Linked DNA regions of Homo sapiens. The protein of the gene in region 1 interacts with the protein of each later gene in a pairwise test. Each region holds a gene or a part of one and is shown in the gene's direction. Other genes may lie near its edges.

Region 1 (10,844 bases):
ACATTCCTGCTTGAGGGAACAGCAGATGTGAAGGCCTTAAGATGAAGGCATTTCTGGTTAGTTTGAAGTTCAACAAGGAGGCCAGCATGGGTGGAGTGAAGACAATAAGGAAAAGAGTAGTAGAACTTAAGGTCAATAAATAATGGGGGAAATTGAGGTAGGCGTATCATCTAAGGTCTCTATTGGCCATTATAAGAACTTAATTTTTTAAAATATGAGCTCTTTATTATATGCCATACATCACTGTGTATATTTTATGTTTTTACATACCCATTCATTTTTTAAGTTATATCCAAAACTGTGTAGGACTTATGTGATATTATGAGTGAAAGAGGGAGCCATCAATGGCTTTTGAGGCTGGAAATGACATGATCTAACATGTTTTATCCCCTTTATCTTTATTTTCTATTCTCCCTAGAAAAAAATGGATAGACCTTGGGTTTCTCCCTCAACAGATTCTCTCTGAATATGGGGGAGAGATACAGAAAAACCTTTTTTTCTGACTGCATTTTATTTTCAGGTGAAACAGACAAGGTCAGAACTAAAAGAAAAGAGCCCTTAAAACTGTGATTTTCAACATTGACTGCACATGAGAATCACTTGGTGAACTGTAAAATGTAGCGTGCTCATGCCACATTTTTGACTAACTACAACAGAATCTTAGGGGAGGGACCCAGGTGTCACTATTTTTTGGCACTCCCAAGGTGCAACCAAGACTGAGAACCACTGGTCTAAGAGATTAGCCAAACCAACTCCCTCGTGGTATGAATGGAGAACTTGATTCCAGCATTGGGAAGGGATATTCTCCTGATGGCAGAGCTGGGACTAGGACCATTCACTATGCTGAGCTAAAACAGGAAATGCAAACTTTACAAATAGTGGGGCAGAAGGAAGATATGATGTTTGATAGTTTGGAAGGAGGTTATAAACAAGATAAACCTTGGATAGAAGTGGCCTTGGGTCAGTTCAGAAAAGGGAAAGGCTGAGTGCCAACACCAAAAGGTAAAGCAACATTTGAATTACAGGCCAGGCATCTGGAAATGATGGCACTGTACAGTTTAGAAGCTTGATTTTCAAGAAAGCAGTGTTCTCAAGGCTACGTTGAGCAACTTCTTTGATTCTGTCTTGTGCATGTGGGTGGATAGATGGGCTCGCAGTAGAGGAATGGGCAAGGCATGGAGACCATCTGCTGTCTTCTTCATCGTTTTTAATCCCACACCTCCTGCACTGTCCAGGCAAAGCAAATATCCTGAAGTACTGAGTTCTTAATTTAGACTTGTCCTTCTTTCCTGCCTACCCATACTACATAGAGAGAGCATGTTTCACCCCACAGGCATGTGTGCAAGTTGAGAAGAGCAGCAGCCACAAGCTGCAGCAAGGAGCAGCTGCACCCCCAGCAGCCTGGGTACCTCACATCCAGCAGAAACTTGGCCAACATCAATTATTCAGGGCATGATGAGCTAATTTGGGGATTACTATTGATGTCAGCTGTATTGTTTCTCCTCTTCCCTGTCTGCTTGCATTCTTAATCGTCTACATTATTTTTTGAGGAATCAGGACAGGGAGATGGGTGGGAAGAGCAGCCACATGACAGACAGGCAAAATAAGGGAATAATTCTAGTCATATTGCCACTTGTTGGCCCTTGTAAACACAATCAAGGTATATACAACACATACTTGGATAAGTTTGGGTGAGAAGTTGGATGAATCAAATTATATTTGGAGGCCTGTGTAAAAATATTCATAGCAGCTTTAACATTTTTTGGGGGGCTAACTTAAGCAATATCCTATTGGAATAATAAATTCAAAGTATTAAATAAAGCTAAAGAACCATCTTTTAAAATGAGATATAATTCACATACTATAAGATTTACCTTTTTAAAGTGTATAATTCACTAGTTTTAGCATATTCACAAAGTCACACGACCGTCACCACTGTCTAATTCCAGGGCATTTTCATGACCCTAGAAAGAAACATACCTATTCAGCAGTCACTTCCCATTTCCCTTTCTCCCCAGGCCCTGATATCCACTAAAGCTAGTTTATGATTGATTGCCTATTCTGGACATTTCATGTAAATAGAATCATACAACATTTGTCCTTTTGTGTCTAGCTTCTTTTATTTAGCATAATGTTTTCAACGTTCATTCATGTTATTGCACATGTTAAGCACATCATTCTTTTCTCTGACTGAATAATTTTCATTGTATGGATAAACCACATTTTGTTTACCATTTATCAGTTGATGAACATGTGGATTTTCCCCACTTTTTGGCTATTATAAATAATGCTGCTAGGAACATTTGTTTACAGGTTTTTGTATGAACACATGTTTTCAATTCTTTTGGGTATTTACACTTAGGAGTGAAATTGCTGGGTCATGTTGTAACATGATGTTTAACATTTTGAGGAACTGCAAAATTAATTTCCAAAGGGGCTGCATCATTTTGTATTCTCGCCAGCAATACACAAGGGTTCCAGTTTCTCCACATCCTTCTCCCCCAGGCTGGAGTGCAATGGCACGATCTCGGCTCACTGCAACCTCTGCCTCCCGGGTTCAAGCAATTCTCCTGCCTCAGCCTCCCAAGTAGCTGGGATTACAGGTGCCTGCCACCATCCCCGGCTAATTTTTGTATTTTTAGTAGATTCAGGGTTTCACCATATTGGCCAGGCTAGTCTTGAACTCTTGACCTCAGGTGATCCACCTGCCTCGGCCTCCCAAAGTGCTGGGATTACAGGCGTGAGCCACCGTGCCTGGCCGGCTATTTTTTTTTTTTTTTTTTTTTTTTGGTAGTGGATATAAAGTGCTGTTTTATTGTGGTTTTCATTTTCATTCCCTTTGTTGCTGATAACACCGACCATCTTTTCATGTGTTTATGGGCCATTTGTAAGTCTTAGAGTGATATCTATTCAAATTCTCTACTCATTTTTAAATTATCTATCTTTTTTTGAGTTGCAAGAGTTTTCTATATATTTAGATACAAGTCTCTTATCAGATATGTGATATGAAAATTTTTGTGTCCTATTATGTGGATTGTCTTTTCACTTTCTTGATGGTGTCCTTTGAAGCACAAACATTTTTAATTTTTAAATTTTGTTGACATGTCATTGTTCTGTTTTTCTCTCTTGTTGCTTGTGCTTTTGTTGTTATATCTAAGCAACTACTTCCTAATCCAGTGTCACAAAAATTTACACCTATATTTTCTTATAAGAAAAACATTAATTACAGAATTATTATGTTTTCTTGTAAGAAAACTTTTATAAGAGTTTTATAGTTTTAACTCTTACATTTGGGGATTTAGTCTATTGTGAGTTAATTTTGTATATGATATGAGGTAGGGGTCCGATTTGATTCTTTTGCATGTGGATATCCAGTTTCCCCAACACCCTTCTTTGAAAAGATTTTTTTTCTCATTGAATTTTCTTGGCATTCTTTAAAAAATCCATTGACCATAGTATAGCAACTCAATTTATAATGGCCTCAAATTAAAAGCAGTCCAATGTTTGCCAAGAAAAATATATAAATTGTGGTATATCCATACAATAGGATACTACACAACAATAGTAATTAACAAATGTTGCTACACAAAACATAATGGATAACTATCACAGACATTATAGTTATCAAGAGAAACCAGAAACAGAAGAGCGCATCTTGTATGATTCAAATTTATGTGAATTTCAAGGACAGGTATAACTAATTGTAGTGATAGAAGCCAGTGCTGTAATTATCTGGGGAGGAGTCGATATTGACTGGGAAGGGGCGTGAGGGAGCCTGCTGGGGTAATAGAAAAGTTCTGTGTATTTATTTGGGTGGTGTTTACATGGGCATGTACACAGTAAAAATTTATTAATTTATTTAATCTTTATGCTCCTTACTATGTATATGTTGTACTGCAATCAGAAACAGACAAAAAATCCCAGCATGTTACCCACATGAATTTTTAGAGCACTTCCACATTACCTCATCTGTGTAACTTCTGAGTTACACAGATCAGATATTCTCTGGGCAAGTTGGGAAGTTGGAGGAAGTATTTCAGGGTGTAGCTGACAAACAGTACAACTGAGTGGGTGATGCGCTTTAGCAGAATCAGAACCTCATCATGTGTTATACTCCATGGGATTGAGACAAGAGGCATCTGCCACTTCCCTTCCTCTCCCCAACCCTCAGTAATGTAAAGAGAACACAACCCCATGTCAGAGTTGGGGTGAAAAAAATGTTCTTGAGCAGCCATAACCTTAGGTTGTGGAGGTGAGAGGGACTGTTCTGTGGAAAATCATGTGCTATTTCATAAAGTCCATAATAACATCCTCACTTATTTGCAAATCTGATTTTATTTCTTTTTCACTTCCATTTCAAAGGCAATTGTCTCGGAAAAGTTTCCAAACGTTTGTTGACCAAGTTAATCCTATACAGAAATGCCTTGATGAAAAAAATCCAGCAAACACTTAGAACAATGTTTCTTTTAGCCAAGGTGGCTTAGGCACTGAGGGTATCTTGGAGAATCTTTTCCTTAAGCATCAGGTCACTGGTGGTTGCGATTAATGAGGAGGAAACTGCTATAGTGGCATCCATCTTAAACATGGCCTTCATGCTCCAGCTGAAATGGTCAATGAAGAAGCTTGGGTGCCTTTCCTTTTTCTTCCCCACACATCCCAAAAATGACAAATGTGCACTCCTTTTACTATAAACCTCACTCTTCTGAAGAGGAAAGAAGAAAGGGAACCTGCTAATTACCAAACGTCTCATATGTATCAAGCCCTATACTTGGTCCCTTAATATGTATTATTGCATTTAATTTTCTAAATTACTGTGCAGTATATTATTTAAACATCCATTTTGCAGATGAAAAAACTGATGCTGACAAAGGTAAAACTATTTGTTTGAGGATGCAGAATTAAAATTAAAACTCAAGTCTACATGTCCCTAACTAAGAGCTTTGCTCTTTTTTTGATGGATGTGAGGTTACTACTATTGTTTGGAAAGTCATTATCTTAAAGAGAAATGATCTATGTTGCTAGATTCATATGCATAGTTAACCATAGTCCAGGGAATGTAGCATGTTGATAAGCTAACAAATAGTAAGCACTGTTGAGGTACACACTCTGTGCCAGGTGCAGGGCTAGGCACTGGGCATGCAGTGGTCTCTACTCTTGGGAACTTTATAGGTCTGTATATATTGCCAACTTAGCCAGAAGTTTAGAGGATTCAGCCACATCCTTTGTGATACTTTGGAAGAGTGTCTAGCTGCAGTATGGAATACCTCAGAGTAACTATAATTTTCTGAAAACATAATTATTCTTTCTTATTTTTTCTTTTAAAAGGCGGTTACATATGCTACAGGAAACTGTTGATTACAGGGAAAAATTCATATAAGGTCTGACTTTCTCCCTAGGTAATGACATTTAACCCTTATTAGGTAGTTTTACACATACGCCCTGACCTCTTCAAAAGAGTCCAGAATCTATAATTTTGTTCTCTTTAATAAAGTCAATTTGTTAAGCGTCGAATGAAAGATAATTTAATTTGTATGCTTTGAATAAATAGTATGAGAAAAAAAGAGGGAAGGCTGGGCAAGGTGCCTCACGCCTTTAATCCCAGCACTTTGGGAGGCCGAGGCGGGTGGATCACCTGAGGTCAGGAGTTCGAGACCAGCCTGACCAATATGATGAAACCCTGTCTATACTAAAAATACAAAAATTTGCTGGGCATGGTGGCATGCTCCTGTAATCCCAGCTACTCGGGAGGCTGAGGCAGGAAAATCACTTGAACCCAGGAGGCAGAGGTTGCAGTGAGCCAAGACTGTACCATTGCACTGCAACAAGAGCAAAACTCCATCAAGGAAGGAAGGAAGGAGAGAGAGAGAGAAAGAAAGGAGGAAAGGAAGGAAGGAAAGAAGGAAGGAAGGAAGGGAGGGAGGGAGGGAAAAAAGAGGGGAGAGAAAGTCCCTCTGCTCAATTTGGCACCAAGCCTGCCTTGCCTAGACAGAGGTTTCAAAGCCATGGTTAGAGAGACATGTTGGGGTTTAGGACACATGATGTTTATTAGGGGGGTGGAGCTCTAGAAACCAAATGAAATAGGATGTCTCAGACCCTCAAATGCCAGCAGCAGTTGTCATGGAGATTTTAAACGCCTATGTTGGGAACTTAGCTCAAAAAGAGGGCTACTTCTTGGTTCCTGCCAATGTTTTTCTGTTTTGTGGGCAAAAAGGGATATGAGAAAGTTGTCCAGAGCAGTTTCCTGGCCCTGTTACTGTGGTGCTTAACTTCCTGGTCATGAAGGCTATGAGAATACTGAAGTTTTCTGTTCTCAAGGAGAAGAGTGCATGGCAAGGGGAGGGAAGCATGCCTACTGAGGCCAACACCATGGGCCAGCAATCAAATCAGCACAGAAGACAGTATGTTTATCTTATGCAAGCATGGATCTTGTAGCCCACTTTCCTTTGAATGAAGGAATGGGAAAGAATGGCCCAGTTGATGATGAAAAAAAGGTGCACTTATGGAATGCCATTTAGAATGACTTAACCTGTCGCTTTTGGGGAACTTTGAGTGGAGGAGTGGTGGCCTCTCAAGGTACACATGTACACTCTCGTCTCTTCTGACTAAGAGTACACATTTAGGACTTTGGCACTTTTAGAAACCACTTGAAATTCACCCTAGTATGAAGTCATGAGTAAGTAAAGAACCTCATGCTACCTTTCTCTTTGAGTAGGATAAGCCCCATTTATGAATTACTTTAGCCCCTTCATTAAAATTCCTCTTTGTAGAAGACAACCTTTCTGCATACTTAACTCTGTCTTATTTTGTATAGCTCTTTAGAATGGTTTGATGGACCTTAGCTCCTTTAACCCTCCCAAGAGCTATATACAATAGGTGAAGAACATTCTATCCCTTTTTCTTAGATTAAGTAACCGAGGCCAGAAAAGATAAAGTGATCCATCCCAGATTGTAGATTGAAAGGGTAAGAGCCAGGCTTGGTGAACAGCCATCCCACTTCAATGCTAGCTCTACTGCTATATGCATCTGTATTCCAAGAACTATTATCTGAGTAATGTTTCCCTATCTGTGCACCTTTGTGCACCAAAATATGTCTACATTCTGGGTTATTCTCCCCTCCCATTCTGCCTAAGACAGAAGCTATGGCAGGTATTGGTCCTCAGAGGTACTGAGGCCACTGTTGGCAAAGAGAAACAATGTTTCAGCTTTTTCAGTTATAAAATAAAGATGACAATCTCTATAATGCTTACCTCACATGGATGTTGTGTAGATCAAATAATAATAGATGTGAAAGTACTTTCTAAATTGTTATGATCTGTTCACACATGAGGGATTGTGATTATTCTTTACCCCCTGGGCAGAAGCCAACTCCTTGTCTTATTACTCTCTTTACAAATTCAGCTCCTGGTATAGCCACTGACTGTGAATTTGAGCAAATTGCTTGGTCTCTTTGCCTCAGTTTCTTCATCTGTAAAATGTTGCTAACAATAATTCTTAATATGATTGTCTTGAGAATGGAATGAGTTACTACATGCAAAGCATTTACAAGAACTCATGGCACATGGTCAGAGCTACATAAGCATTAACTCTTTTGTGTTGGCTTCCTCGTCCCTACTATCTCAGATCTAGAGAATAGATTAAGGGGACCCAGAAGCCAAGTGGCATGGAAGCCACTACTTATAGTCCCTTCCCACTAGCTTGCTAGTTCTTGTGTTCTCTACCCACAGCCTTCCCACCATGGATTGCCAAGAAAATGAGTACTGGGACCAATGGGGACGGTGTGTCACCTGCCAACGGTGTGGTCCTGGACAGGAGCTATCCAAGGTAAGTTATCCTATTCAGTACACTTATTTCTGTTGCATCTTAGGAACCAGCCCGGCAACTGAAAGAGGCCAAGATTAGGGGAGTCAGCCCTACTTATGACTGATCCAGTTCAGCGGGTAAAACCTGGGATCCACAGAGTATGCAATAGCAGTCATGATTCCAGCATGAAGTCAGCCTAGCAGGATCAAGGTCAAGGGAAGTTTCCATGAGATAACAGAGTATTTCAAGAATAGATGTGTAATGCAGAGACCCATGAGGACTGTTCAGCATTAGGGTAATCTGTCATCTAAAGCAAGGCCCAACCACATGGTGTTCAAGAGCCAGATATCAGGTCTTAGGAATGAGAAAGAGAGAAGAGCCAAGAAGACCTCTGTTCTAGAGGGTCTGCGCTACTGAGGAAGCTGTGCAATGGAGAATATAGGGATAGGGAACCACGGAGGGTCTAAAATCCCAATTAAAGATAAGGATCAGAATAAAATGACCAGCAAGGCAGAGACTTTATGTAACTTACTTGTTTCAAGCCTGGATCTGCTTAATTGTTCTTTCCTCAGGTCCCTTGTAGGTCCCTGAACTTGGGGGTGGTATTAAATTTTGGCTGCAGCTGGGGCTACAGAGGCCAGAAGCAAGCAGCTAGCAGATGGTTTCTGCATATTCACACTCTATTTTATGCAATTTTTGTTTATTCAGCAGTTGCTTATTGAACACTTGCAGAGTGGCAGGCATGGTTGTAGACACCATGGATATGGCAGAACAAACAAAAATATTTGCCTTCATGGACCTTACCTTCTATTATTAGTGAAAAAATAATAATTGAGACACATACAGAGATAAATGAAGAATCTGGATATGAAGATATGAGAAGAATCAAATTAGGGTGACTGGGTGGCTACTTCAGATTATGAAACAAGGAAAGGTCTCCCTAAGGAGACAGCCTCTGGGGAGAGGATACTAGTGCAGAGTCCCAAGGTGAAAATGAACTAGGCATTTTGAAGGAAAAGGAGGAAGGTAGTGCAATGGGTGTATGGTGAATGAGAGGGAGGGTAGTACACAAAGAGGTCAGAGAGAGAAGTATAGACCAGACCAGATAGCAGCTTGAGGTCTATGAGAAATTTTCATCTTTCTCTAAGTGCATTAGGAGCTCTTTGGAGGGTTTTGGGTTGGAAAGTTATAGGAATCTGTGGCTGGAAAACAACATAATAATTATCTAGCCCACTTTATTCCTACCTTTGTATTTTAAAAAATGAAGAGAATAAGGCGCAGGGATATCAAGAGATACAAGCACTAATTCTAAGTTTTTACACATGGCATTATGTCCCACAGTGGGGTACCCACATGGTTGATAAAGGATCCCAGTACCAAGGAAAGATCGCCAGAGGTAAGGTCATGCTGGACATTAAAATAGATATTAAAGCTTATATATGTGTAATACATATAAGCTTTAGAGCCAGATACACATGGGCATGAGTCCCATCTTTGCTCTGGGCAAATTATTTCACCTCAGAATCAATTAGGATGTAGTAAGTTGAAAGTAACATAAAATTTAACCATGACATGAACCATAAGTATATTTATTTATGTAATGAAGTCTGGAGACAGGCAACCTTTTTGCTTGTTGGGCAGATCAGCAATGTTATCAAGGACTCAGCCTCTTTTCATCCTTCATATTGGACATCTTGCTGTTTTGTTCTCATTGTGGCCTCATGATTGCAAAACTCAAAGCATCATATCTCCATACAATAGTCAAAGTCAGGAATCAGGGGCAAGGTCAAAATAGCTTGCCTTTTGTAGGGAAGAAGTCTTTTCCCAGAAGCTGTCCAACAGATTTTTCCTTATATCTTATGGTCCAGAACTGGGTGATGTAGCTATCTTTAGCTGGAATAGAGACTGGGAAATAAGTATCTGGCCAATGAGAATGGGATTGTGTGATTAAGACCAATCAAGAATCCGTTCTGGAGGCTAGTCTTCATGCCACCTAGAATGAAATCAGTGTTTTTATAGTAAGGAAGAAGAGGGGCAATTGTTTGAATAAGCAGCTAGAAGCATCTGATAGCCTTTTTTAAAGTAACTTTTATTTACTTTTAAATTTTACTCATGAATTATAAACATCACTGTAAATAAATCATTGCAGAAAATTAACACCATTTCCTCAGGACATTTTTCTTGATGTATAATTGCCAAGCTAAATAATGCGTACGATTTTAAGACTCTTGAAATATATCAGCAGATAACACTTCTGAATTTTGTTTATACTAATTTCTATTACCATTACATTTATTTTCAACAGTGCATAGAATTCCTGTTGTGGCCCTCTGTTCGGGGTCCCTGACTTCCCACAACAAATTCCCATGTCCCAGAAGCCTAAACGCAAATGAATAATAGATATTTTCATGATCTATTAATTTTATGCCTTCCTTTTAACAGTAATTACTAATTTATGAGGACTTTATGAGAATTTTGGTTTTACTTTTTATCTATTTGATAGGGGAAATGTACCAACTTTACTGTGTTTATTTGCCCATTTGCCTTTCCAATTTTGTGATCTATTTCTGATTGTTTCTCTTTCTATTCTTTCTATTCATTATGTATTGTTCTTTGTCTACTCACATAAGGAACCTAAGTAGACAGACATATAGTAGATAACAGAGTATTTTAAAAATCGTTTAAAATGTAAGTATATTTGTATTTAAAAACCAGAAATGCTTTTAAATTTTGTTTCATTTTAGTATCATCTGTTGATTTGTAAATATATTTTCCCTTTGATGTATTAATTTGATGACATGTATTAATAAATTCCTAAAATTTAAATATCCTGCATTCCCAGTATAAACCATTCTTGATTATAGTTTTAAGGTAAATACCCTTTTATGTTGTATAAGTTAGTATTTTAACTAAAACAAATAATTATTATTGTAACACTATCAGCATCAAAATTTTGGATCAGCATTGTGCTACCATGGCAAAATCAAGAATATCAATGTTTTCTGGCTATAAAAGTGGTTAATAGCAAAAGAAATTTTGCACCT
Region 2 (10,844 bases), on another chromosome or scaffold:
ACATGGTGAAACCCCATCTCTACTAAAAATACAAAAATTAGCCGGGCATGATGGTGGACACCTGTAGTCCCACGTACTTGGGAAGCTGAGGCAGGAGAATCGCTTGAACCTGGGAGGCGGAGGTTGCAGTGAGTGGAGATGGCCCCACTGCACTCCAGCCTGGGTGACAAGAGCAAAAAAAAAAAAAAAAGAAAGAAAGGAGAGAGAAAGAAAAGAAAGAAAGAGAGAGAGAAAGAGGAAGGAAGGAAGGAAGGAAAGAAGGAAGGAAGGAAGGAAGGGGAAAGAAGGAAGGGGAAGGAAGGAAGGGGAAGGGAAGGAGGGAGGGACAACTGGGGATTAGGGAGGGAAATAAAGTAAGGTTAACCTGGAGTGGTAACTATTTTCAGTCCATAGAGGGGCTGCAATAGATACACCACTGGGAAGGGGAAAACAGTATAATGGGAGGAATGAGGAAATGTCTGGAGAAATCTAGAATCTGTAAACTTCTTTACCACCAAATTGTTGTTCTCCTCCACGACTGCGGTTGCTACTTTACAATAACTAGGTGATTAAAATTGCCAAATGTTTTACCAATGCCAAAACATTGTGTCTTATATATCTTTTCATTTTCCACAATGCCTACTACAATAAAATATAGCAACATCTTTGTTTGAACAGAATCACTAAAGAATCAGTCACTAGCCATTTTGGCTAAGGAAATTTTACTATTTTGGTGATGAGTTCAATACTAAATAATGTAAGCCAATAGGAAAGACGTCTTAAAGGAACTTCAAATCAATGTGAATGATGTCTGTATATTTATTTTATATTTTGAGGTAAAGTTTCAAAACTGCATGAGTCAACCATTTTCAAATCAGTTTTATATGCTAATGCTGTAACTAAACATCTCACAAGTATTAAAGACTTCCTGTAATATATTTATCAAGTGGTTTATGACCAGATCAGGCCCAACTTTGGACTTCAGTTTTTATCTTAACGTGCAAAGTATAAAAGATGCACATTGAGTTAAGAATCAGTTTGAATTCTAGCTAACCAGGAGAGAATGTAATCATGACAGTCTATTCTTCTCTATACATATGTCTAATTTATAGTAATATGATAGTACTTGATTTTTATAAAGAGCTGTATCATAAACTGAAGGGCAAAAGTCTGAGTAATTGTTGGAAGGATGAGAAAGGTAAGAAACTATAAAGGAACTGAAGGACAAGAATCCTCCATATTCTATTTTTCCTCTGATTTCTATTTTAAGCAATATTTATTCATGTATAATCTTATCTTAGTATAGAGTTAAAATATTTTGACCTATTAGATGAAGGAGAATCAAAAGGCAAAGAATATTTCTGCATGCTAAAAGTCACTTCATAGTTTACAAGACATCAAACAACATGATCTTATTTGAGTTTCGTCTTGTTGGTGTGAACACTACAGGGCGGTTCAGAAGCAGGCTTCGTGTGCCCTGATCCAGCTCTTTTTTAATTATACAGCACCATGCCCAGGAGGCTCAGAACATGACTTCTCACCAACTGAGCATGTACTGAGTTGATTAAGTATTTTAAAAATAAAATGTGAATGAAAGTTCTATGTGGTTGGTTATACCATGTCAAACCAAAAAAGCTGAACAGTCTGTCATCACAGTATTGGTCCAACTCTTAGCAAATATCTTCTAATAATAGCTTGAAGTAATTCACTGGATTCTGAGAATTCCTTTCTGTCATCTAGCTTCTTCTGAGAGAGTCTCTAGAAGACATGATGCTACACTCAGCTTTGGGTCTCTGCCTCTTACTCGTCACAGTTTCTTCCAACCTTGCCATTGCAATAAAAAAGGAAAAGAGGCCTCCTCAGACACTCTCAAGAGGTGCTGTAATCTCATTTTATTTTCTAAACTCAGTCATTTGGATTGCTTTTTAAAATATCTGGTGTCTTCACTCATAGTCTAATTATAAAGCAAATTCAACTAACTGAATGATTTTTGTTGTGTGTGACTTCAAAATGGATTTTTTAAAACAGAAGGAATCAGTTTATTTTAGGCAGTGAATCAAATCAACTAGCAAACAATAACATAAATTTGCATTATCTTTTGCCAAAATAATGGAGAATTGGCTCGCTGTCTATAACTTTGGTAACCAGAGTCCTAGAAAATAATGATTGATTGCTGCGTCATATTGGTGTCCTAATAGCAATTTAAGATTCCTCAAAATTTGCTCAAATTCCCAGTCCTCTATTTCCCAGTCCTCCAAAAAAAAAAAAATTGGAATAATTTTATATAAGCCTTCCCAGAAAATTATACTATACCCCAAACTCTGAGAATTCGGGGTAACTAAGTCTTTGCTATATTGACTCTGGAAGACAGTGGTTTTAGACATAATCAAGGATTGCCGGTGGCTACATGTTTAGAAACATTTCTTTTTGTACTTACTGTTTTACTTGGCCCAAGAAACAAATATATATTCATCTGTAAAGAAACATTTTATTAAAAAAAATTCTCTCTTTTTTTTTTTTTTTGAGACGGAGTCTTGCTCTGTCACCCAGGCTGGAGTGTAGTGGCACGATCTTGGCTCACTGCAAGCTCTGCCTCCCGGGTTCACGCCATTCTCCTGCCTCAGCCTCCCAAGTAGCTGGGACTACAGGCGCCCGCCACCATGCCCGGCTAATTTTTTGTAGTTTTAGTAGAGACGGGGTTTCACCGTGTTAGCCAGGATGGTCTCGATCTCCTGACCTTGTGATCCGCCCGCCTCGGCCTCCCAAAGTGCTGGGATTACAGGCGTGAGCCACCGCGCCCGGCCAAGAAAATATTCTCAAAGTTAGTTTCTATATCTCTAAGTAACAGAAGTAGGAACAGAATTATTTGTCCCCATATAGCTATTCAAAATCAGCAGTATTACCACAAAGTACTTGACCATTTGTTTGCTCCATTCATATTACCACTGCAAATAGTAGTCAAGTGCCTTGGAGTAATACTGCTAGTTTTGAATAACCAAGTGGGAACAAATAATTCTGTTCCTACCTCTGATATATATATAAAATATATATAATTATAACATACAAATTATATATTATATATACTATATATTATATATAATATATATCATAGTATACATTTGTGTTATATTATAATAAATTATATATAAATATATGCTATAATTATAAATATATATTATATAATTTCAAATTCTAAAACACTGACTTGCTTCCCAAGTACATTCATTTCTTAACAGATGTATTGAGTGCCAGCCAAGTGCTCATCAATGTTTACCTAAGCTAATTAACTCTACTTCAGTTTAACAAACACACAATCTATATATACAGAAAGTCAACATATTTTTGCAAAAGAAAGGAATGAAAAAGTTGAAATATTTTCCTAAACATAACTCTATCTCTCTGTATAAGCATAACTGTTGTAAAACAATGAGCTCAGTAGCCCTAAAGTGACAAAGACTAAACTAGTTATTGCCCTTAAAGATTTTCCATGTCTGCATTAAGCAGCACTGTGATAACTATACGTCAAGGCATCAACATTCTGTGTGCTCACTTCTAAATATTTATTTAAAACTCTTGTTGAATGTTTTGAAAAAATATATTACATTTGTATGCCCTATTTTAAACAACTTAAAGGTTCTATTATTTCAATTGATAAGAAACTAATTTAACACAGAAGATGACTGATATTAGCTGAGAACACCATTATTGAGAATTGGTTTATATTTGGCAAAGTCTTTTACCATCTATTGCTACATGGGAGATAATGGAGAGAATGAGGCTCAGAATGAATGAAGATTAAAGGTAGGGGTGAGTGGGAGAAGTCTGGATACAGTATAAAGAGTGGCATATGGAGCCCCTTAGAGCACAGGGCAGCACTAGTTAAGTAGAGAAGGCAGTAAGGAGAAAAGGAAGATTAATTAGAAAAAGGTAGAAGAAGGTTCAGGGAGAAAAAAATACACACACATAGAATGATCCAAAAAAAATCCAATTTCCTTTGAATCAGAATTGCTGAGTACCTAGTCCAGTGATTGGCGGATAGTAAATATTTAATAAATATATGTTAGATAAATGAATAAAATCTCAAAAGACAAGAAAATATAGCCAGAGATAGAGATAGGGCTAGAATTAGAGTAATGAGCAGAAGCCATGAAGTGCATTTAAACTGTGTAACAGCTTTGACCTATTGTGATTATAACAGAGTAAATAAAAAATCATTATAATGCAATATGGCTTTTCTACAGAGCTATGGACAATTTGTTGAGAATAGGGATTATATTGCTCTATGTTTGTATTCCCACTGCTTTGTGGAGTAAGTTATGCAGCAGATGTTCCTTTACTGTTTGTGGAACTAAATTGAGCAGGAGCAGAGAATAGAAATTTTCCCCACTGCTAATGCTCCATCATTGAATGATATTTGCAACAGAAGAGGGAAAATTCAGCAGAGGCCTCGTCTCACTTGCTGTTTTAGAATAACTTTTACTTAATGCAAAATGTGATGTATAGATATTGCATGTGTTCAACCAAAGTTGGAAAGAGAATCTTTCAGGATTATTACAGAGAGCAAGAGTTCCTGTTAAGATGTGGCATTAAACTAACAAGAGATGTTTTTCAATGTTAAGATTTTAAATCAGGCAAAAAAAAACAAAAAACAAAAATGTTGCTGGTGAGTATATAAAATGATGCATCTACTTTAGAAAATAACCCGGCAGCTCCTCAAAAAGCTAAATACAGAGTGACCATTTGATCAGCAGTTCCACTCCTAGGTATATACCCAAGATAAATGAAAATATATACCACTGAAAAACTTGTATATGTATGTTCATAGCATCATTATTCATAAAAGACAAAAAGTGGAAACAACCCAAATATCATTAACTGATGAACAGATAAATAAAATATGGTATATTCATACAATGGAATAATATTTGACCATAAAAAATGAATTAAATAATAATACATGGCACTATAAGGATGAACCTTAAAAAGGTTATGCTGAGTGAAAAAATCTAGTCACAAAAGCCTACATATTGTATGATTCCATTTATATGAAATGTCCAGCATAAGCAAATCTATAGAGACAGAAAGTAGATTAGGGGTTTCTTAGGGCTGTGGCATTTGAAGAAAATGGGGAGCAGGTGATAGCTAAATGGTATAGGGTTTCTTTTTGAGGAGATGAAAATGTTCTAAAATTGATGTGATGATGGTTGCACAACTTCGTGGATATACTGAAAAAAGCACACATTTTCTTTTTTTCTTTTTTTTTTTTTTTTTGAGATGGAGTCTCGCTCTGTTACCCAGGCTGGAGAGCAGTGGCGCAATCTTGGCTCACTGCAACATCCACCCCCAGGTTCAAGCGATTCTCCTGCCTCAGCCTCCCGAGTAGCTGGGACTACAGGCACATGCCACCACACCCAGCTAATTTTTGCATTTTTAGTAGAGACAGATTACACTGTATTGACCAGGCTAGTCTTGAACTCCTGACCTCAAATGATCCACCCACCTTGGTCTCACAAAGTGCTAGGATTACAGTCATGAGCCACCATGCCTGGCCAAAAGTATACGTTTTCAATAGGTGAGTTGTATTGGCGTATGAATTTTATTTCAATAAAGCTGTCGCCAGAAAACAAACATGAAAAACAAGCAAAAATCATGGAATCATATTTATCAAATTACTATCATATTTACCATGATATTAAAGCCAGAAACTGTGGTCTGACAACATTTGAAATGTACAAGAAAACCTGGGCCCAAACTGACTTCCAAATATTGCTAATTTTCACATTAATTCAATCTCTCTCATTCGTAGACTGAGACACTTCCTGAAAATACTCAGTAATGTTTTTGGAGGTTCTGCACATTCTTCTACTTGATGATTTTATCTTTAATTGCTTATACACATTCCCAACTATTCATACCATTTCTTTAAGGCTAATGGGTTCTCTCTATATTCATTGCTTTCTGTTTTTTCTCTCCATTCTTTTGGGTGTTTCCAAAACACATGCGTTTTATTATGTCTCTTGGCCATGAAATTCCCACACAAGAATTTTTTCCATGTCAGAATTCAAAGCAAAACTTGGAATTCCCTTATTTCACAACGTATACTGACTTAGAAGAGGTCAACATCTCTTGGGACCCAAAATAGGAGGGCATTGTAGAGTACAGCCGAAAGGATTCCTAATAATATTACAAAGTATGCAAAGATGAACTGTTACTTTCCAAGCGTTCCTAAAGCCACAGCTTTTACATTATCCAAAGATGTCCTTTCAATCAGCTCTAATCATAACAACATGTATTGAGTACTTACTGGGTTCAAGGCCATGGGCCTCGAGGTTTGAAATGCAGTAGCAAAACCTCAGTACTGCAATCTAAAGGGAAATCACCTCCATATCTTGTGAAAATTGTGTGTCCTCTGCACCATATGTCAGCCAACAGCTTGATGGCTTAGTTAAATATCTGTAGGTAGATATCTGATTATTAGATACCCATTTCCGAGCTCTTCTCTAGTTCTGGGTTACTGCATTGATTTCTCTCTTCTATTTCAGGATGGGGAGATGACATCACTTGGGTACAAACTTATGAAGAAGGTCTCTTTTATGCTCAAAAAAGGTAACATGCTTCTCAGCTCATTTTTTTCCTTTTATTTGTAGTAGACTCATAATAATTGTACATATTTATGGAATATAGAGTGATATGCTGATACATGTACACAATGTGTAGTGATCAAATCAGTGTAATTAGCATATGCATCACCTGAAACATATCATTTCTTTCTGGTGGGAACACTCAAAATCCTCTCTACTAGCTTTTTAAATATATACAATAAACTATTGTTAACTGTATGTACCCTATAGTGCTGTAGAATACTACTCAAACTTATTCCTCCTATCTAGCTATATTTTTGCATCTATTAATCAACCTCTCCTTATCCTTCCAGCTCTGAACCCTCCCCAGCTTCTAATAACCAGAGTTCTACTCTCTACTTCTATTAGTACAACTTTTTTTTAAGCTACTCTATATGAGTCAGAATTTGTGGTATTTATCTTTCTATATCTGACTTATTTCACTTAACACATCCTCCAGGCTCATTCATGCTGCTGTGAATGAGAGCATTTCATTATTTTTATGTCTGGGTAGTAGTCCACTGTGAATATATAACATGTTCTCTTTATCCATCCATCCATTGATGGACATTTAGGTTGATTCTATATCTTGGCTATTGTGAATAGTGATTCCATAAATATGGAGATGCAAATATCTCTTTGATATACTGATTTTTTAAATAAATACTCAGTAGTAGGAAAGCTGGATCATATGGTAGTTATATTTTTAGTTTTCTGAGAATCCTCTATATGTTTGCATAATGGCTGTACTAATTTACATTCCTACCAACAGTGTATAAGAATTCCCTCTTCTCTGCATCCTCACCAGCATTTGTTATTTTTTGTCTTTTTGATAATATCAGTTCTAACTGTGGTGGGATAATATCTCATTGTGGTTTTGATCTGCCTTTCCCCGATGATTAGAGATGTTGAGAATTTCTTCATATCCTTGGCCATTTGTGTGTCTTCTTTTGAGAAATGTCTATTCAGATCTTTTGCCCATTTTAAAATCAAATCATTTGGGGTTTTTTGTTGTTGAGTTGTTTGAGTTCCTTGTATATTCTAGATATAGGCCCATGTCGAATGAATAGTTTGCAAATAATTTCTCCTATTCTACAGTTTGTCCCCTTATGCTTTTGTTTCCTTTGCTGTTCAGATGCTTCTCAGGTGACATAGTCCCATTTGTCTATTTTTGTTTTTGTTGCCTGTGCTTTTGAAATCTTACCCATACATTTTTTTGCAGGGAACAATGTCCGAAGGGCTTCCCTTATATTTTCTTCTAGGAGTGTTATAGTTTGGGGTCTTACATTCAAGTCTTTAGTCCATTTTGAATTGATTTCTGCATATGGTAAGAGTTAGGAGTCTAGTTTCATTCTTCTACATATGGATATCCAGGTTTTCCAGCACCATTTATTGAAGAGGGTGTCCTTTCCCCAATGCATGTTCTTGCCACCTTTGTTAAAAATCAGCTGACTTTAAATACGTGGATTTATTTCTGGGTTCTCTATTCTATTCCATTGGTCTAGGTTTCTGTTTTTATACAAATACCATGCTGTTTTGTTTACTATAGCTTTGCAGTATATTTTGAAGTCAAGTAGTATGATGCCTGCAGTTTTGTTCTTTTCACTCAGTATTGCTTTGAACTATTTGGAGTCTGTTGTGGTTCTATACAAATTTGAAGATTTTTTTCTTTCTGTTTCTGTGAAAAATATCATTGGTATTTTGATAGAGATTGCATTGAATCTGTAGATTGCCTTTGGTGGTATGGTCATTTTAGCAAAATTCATTCTTCCAATCCATGGCATGGGATGTCTTTCCATTTTTTGGTGTTCTCTTCAATTTCTTTCATCAATGTTTTATAGTTTTTCTTGTAGGGATCTTTCACCTCCTTGGTTAATATATTCCTAGGTGTGTGTGTGTGGTTTTTGTTTGCTTGTTGTTTTTTTGAGATGGAGTCTTGCTCTGTCACCAGGCTGGAGTACAGTGGCGCGATCTCAGCTCGCTGCAACCTCTGCCTCCCAGGTTCCAGTGATTCACCTGCCTCAGCCTCCTGAGTAGCTGGGATTATAGGCACATGCCACCATGCCCAGCTAATTTTTTATTATTAGTAGAAACAGGGTTTCACCATGTTGGCCAGGCTGGTCTCGAACTCTTGATCTCAGGTGATACGTCCACCTCAACCTCCCAAAGTGCTGGGATTACAGGCGTTAGCCACCACGCCTGGCCTTTTTGTGGTTATTGTAAATAGCATTGCTTTCTTGTTTCTTTTTTTCAGCTAGTTTGTTATTGTTGTATAGAAATGCTACTGGTTTTGCATGTTGATTTTGTATCCTCCACTCTCCGTTAATTTTAACAGATCATATAGATACCTCATTGATGAATCAAAAAAAAGCATTTTAGTTTTCAAAAGGATGCCACAAGTATTTGCTCTGCTATTGTATGCCAAAGGGACTAATAGTTGCTATTAGAATACATTTTATAAACAAAAGCTCTAAATACCTCTGTATTAATGTCTTCATTACTCAATCAAGCTTTTGAGTATGTTGTATAAACAAAGCAGTATTATTTATTAGGCAGTATACAAGCTTAGACAGAAAACTGGTTTAGGGCAGCAGTTCTAAGGCCTGCCTGTTTGAATATTAGAGCAATTTGAGTAGCTTTTTTAAAAATCCAAATTTATAATTAATCAGTCAAGTATTCCTTGAATGTCCACTGCTATGTACCAGACACTGTTCTAGGCTCAATAACCAAGTATACCATTTTTATTCTTAAAGACCTACTAAGTCTTTGGGAATGAAGCTGAGAAACATATTATTAAAAGCTCCCCAAGAATGAATGAAATATCTAAAGAACATTCTATTGCAATACTCTTTAAAGATAAATTAAGATTCCAAATTAACTATTGTTTCAATATTGGACAAGCATTAGAAAAGAAAGAAGTCTACAGAAGAATCTCACTTCCAAATATCGGTGTAACAAACAAACAACATATTAGTAAGGAGCACCAGCAGAACATTTAAAAATATACCCTGACAAATTGAGATTTAGCCTGGGAATGCCAGAGTGGTTTAGGATTAAGAAATGTACTAATTAAAATAATTTAATATTTATAAGGAGACAATTCATACAAGTATGTCTAATCTCCACCAATTCTGAAAATGCATTATAGAATAAAACATCTATATTTGAATTTTTAAGACTTTGTATTTGACAATATTAATTTCTTTAAATTAATCCCAACAACAGCATTCCAACAGTAGCAACAACAACAAAAAACCAACATTATGCTTACTGGGAAAACAAATAGAAGTGTCCCATTAAAGTGTGGATAAGACAAGTATATCTACAACCACAACAATTACTAACATTTTTCTGAAGTACTAACACAATTATAGAAGGAAAAAGTAGAAAATGTAGAAAGGAAAAGTTAAAATTATCTTTATGTGCAAATGATAATTTATATACGTGAAAAACTAAAAAAATTTAAATATTCAGAATAACAAAAATTCTGTTGAATTAGATGAGAATAAATTGATATTTAAAAATTGACTGCATTTATATATAGAAAAACACATCCAAAAAAACTTGTTAAATACCTCATTTACAATGACAAAAAAGAAAATACCCCAGAATAAACTTGACAGAAGATATGCAAAATCTATAAGAACCTAAATACACTGAAAAGAAAAAAGAAATTTCCAAACCAATGGCAGTGCATATTATATTCTTGGATAGAAAGACTTAACATCATAAAAATGCCAATTCTCTCTATACTTAAAAAACTTTTTAAGATGATCACAATAAATTGTGATAAGATTTTTTAAAAAGATAATTCTAAAGTTGAAATGAAAAAATAATAGACATGAGTAGTTAGGATAGTTAGGAACATTCTGAAAAGAGAGCAATAGGGATTAGGCCTTAATCATTATTAAACATTTTACAAAGCAATAATAAACAGTATATTACTTGTAAATAAATAAAATATAATAAAAGTATAGAAATAAAACTTTGAATGTAAATGGATTTGGACCTCCAATCAAAAGACATAGAGTGACTCAATGGATTAAAAAACAGGTTCCCCCTGCCCCCTGCAAAAAAAAAAAAAAAAAAAAACAAACTCACAAGCCCCAACTATAGGCTCAAGCGATCCTCCTGCCTCAGCCTTTCAAGTGGCTAGGACTACAAATGTGTGCCACCACATGGGCCAATTTTTGTACTTTTGGTAGAGACAGGGTTTCATCATGTTGCCCAGACTAGTCTCAAACT

Evidence for each region.
Region 2: the proteins of EDA2R (region 1) and AGR3 interact in binary tests that used the Homo sapiens proteins (3 or more experiments, as listed by UniProt).

The regions. Positions count from the first base shown.
Region 1 is NC_000023.11:66,612,911-66,623,754, reverse strand, and holds part of EDA2R (tumor necrosis factor receptor superfamily member 27), read left to right. Parts: intron 1-7,724; 5' UTR 7,725-7,734; coding exon 7,735-7,821; intron 7,822-9,141; coding exon of another isoform or gene 9,142-9,196; intron 9,197-10,844. UniProt on the Homo sapiens protein: Receptor for EDA isoform A2, but not for EDA isoform A1. Mediates the activation of the NF-kappa-B and JNK pathways. Activation seems to be mediated by binding to TRAF3 and TRAF6.
Region 2 is NC_000007.14:16,869,521-16,880,364, reverse strand, and holds part of AGR3 (anterior gradient protein 3 precursor), read left to right. Parts: intron 1-1,719; 5' UTR 1,720-1,746; coding exon 1,747-1,855; intron 1,856-6,521; coding exon 6,522-6,585; intron 6,586-10,844. UniProt on the Homo sapiens protein: Required for calcium-mediated regulation of ciliary beat frequency and mucociliary clearance in the airway. Might be involved in the regulation of intracellular calcium in tracheal epithelial cells.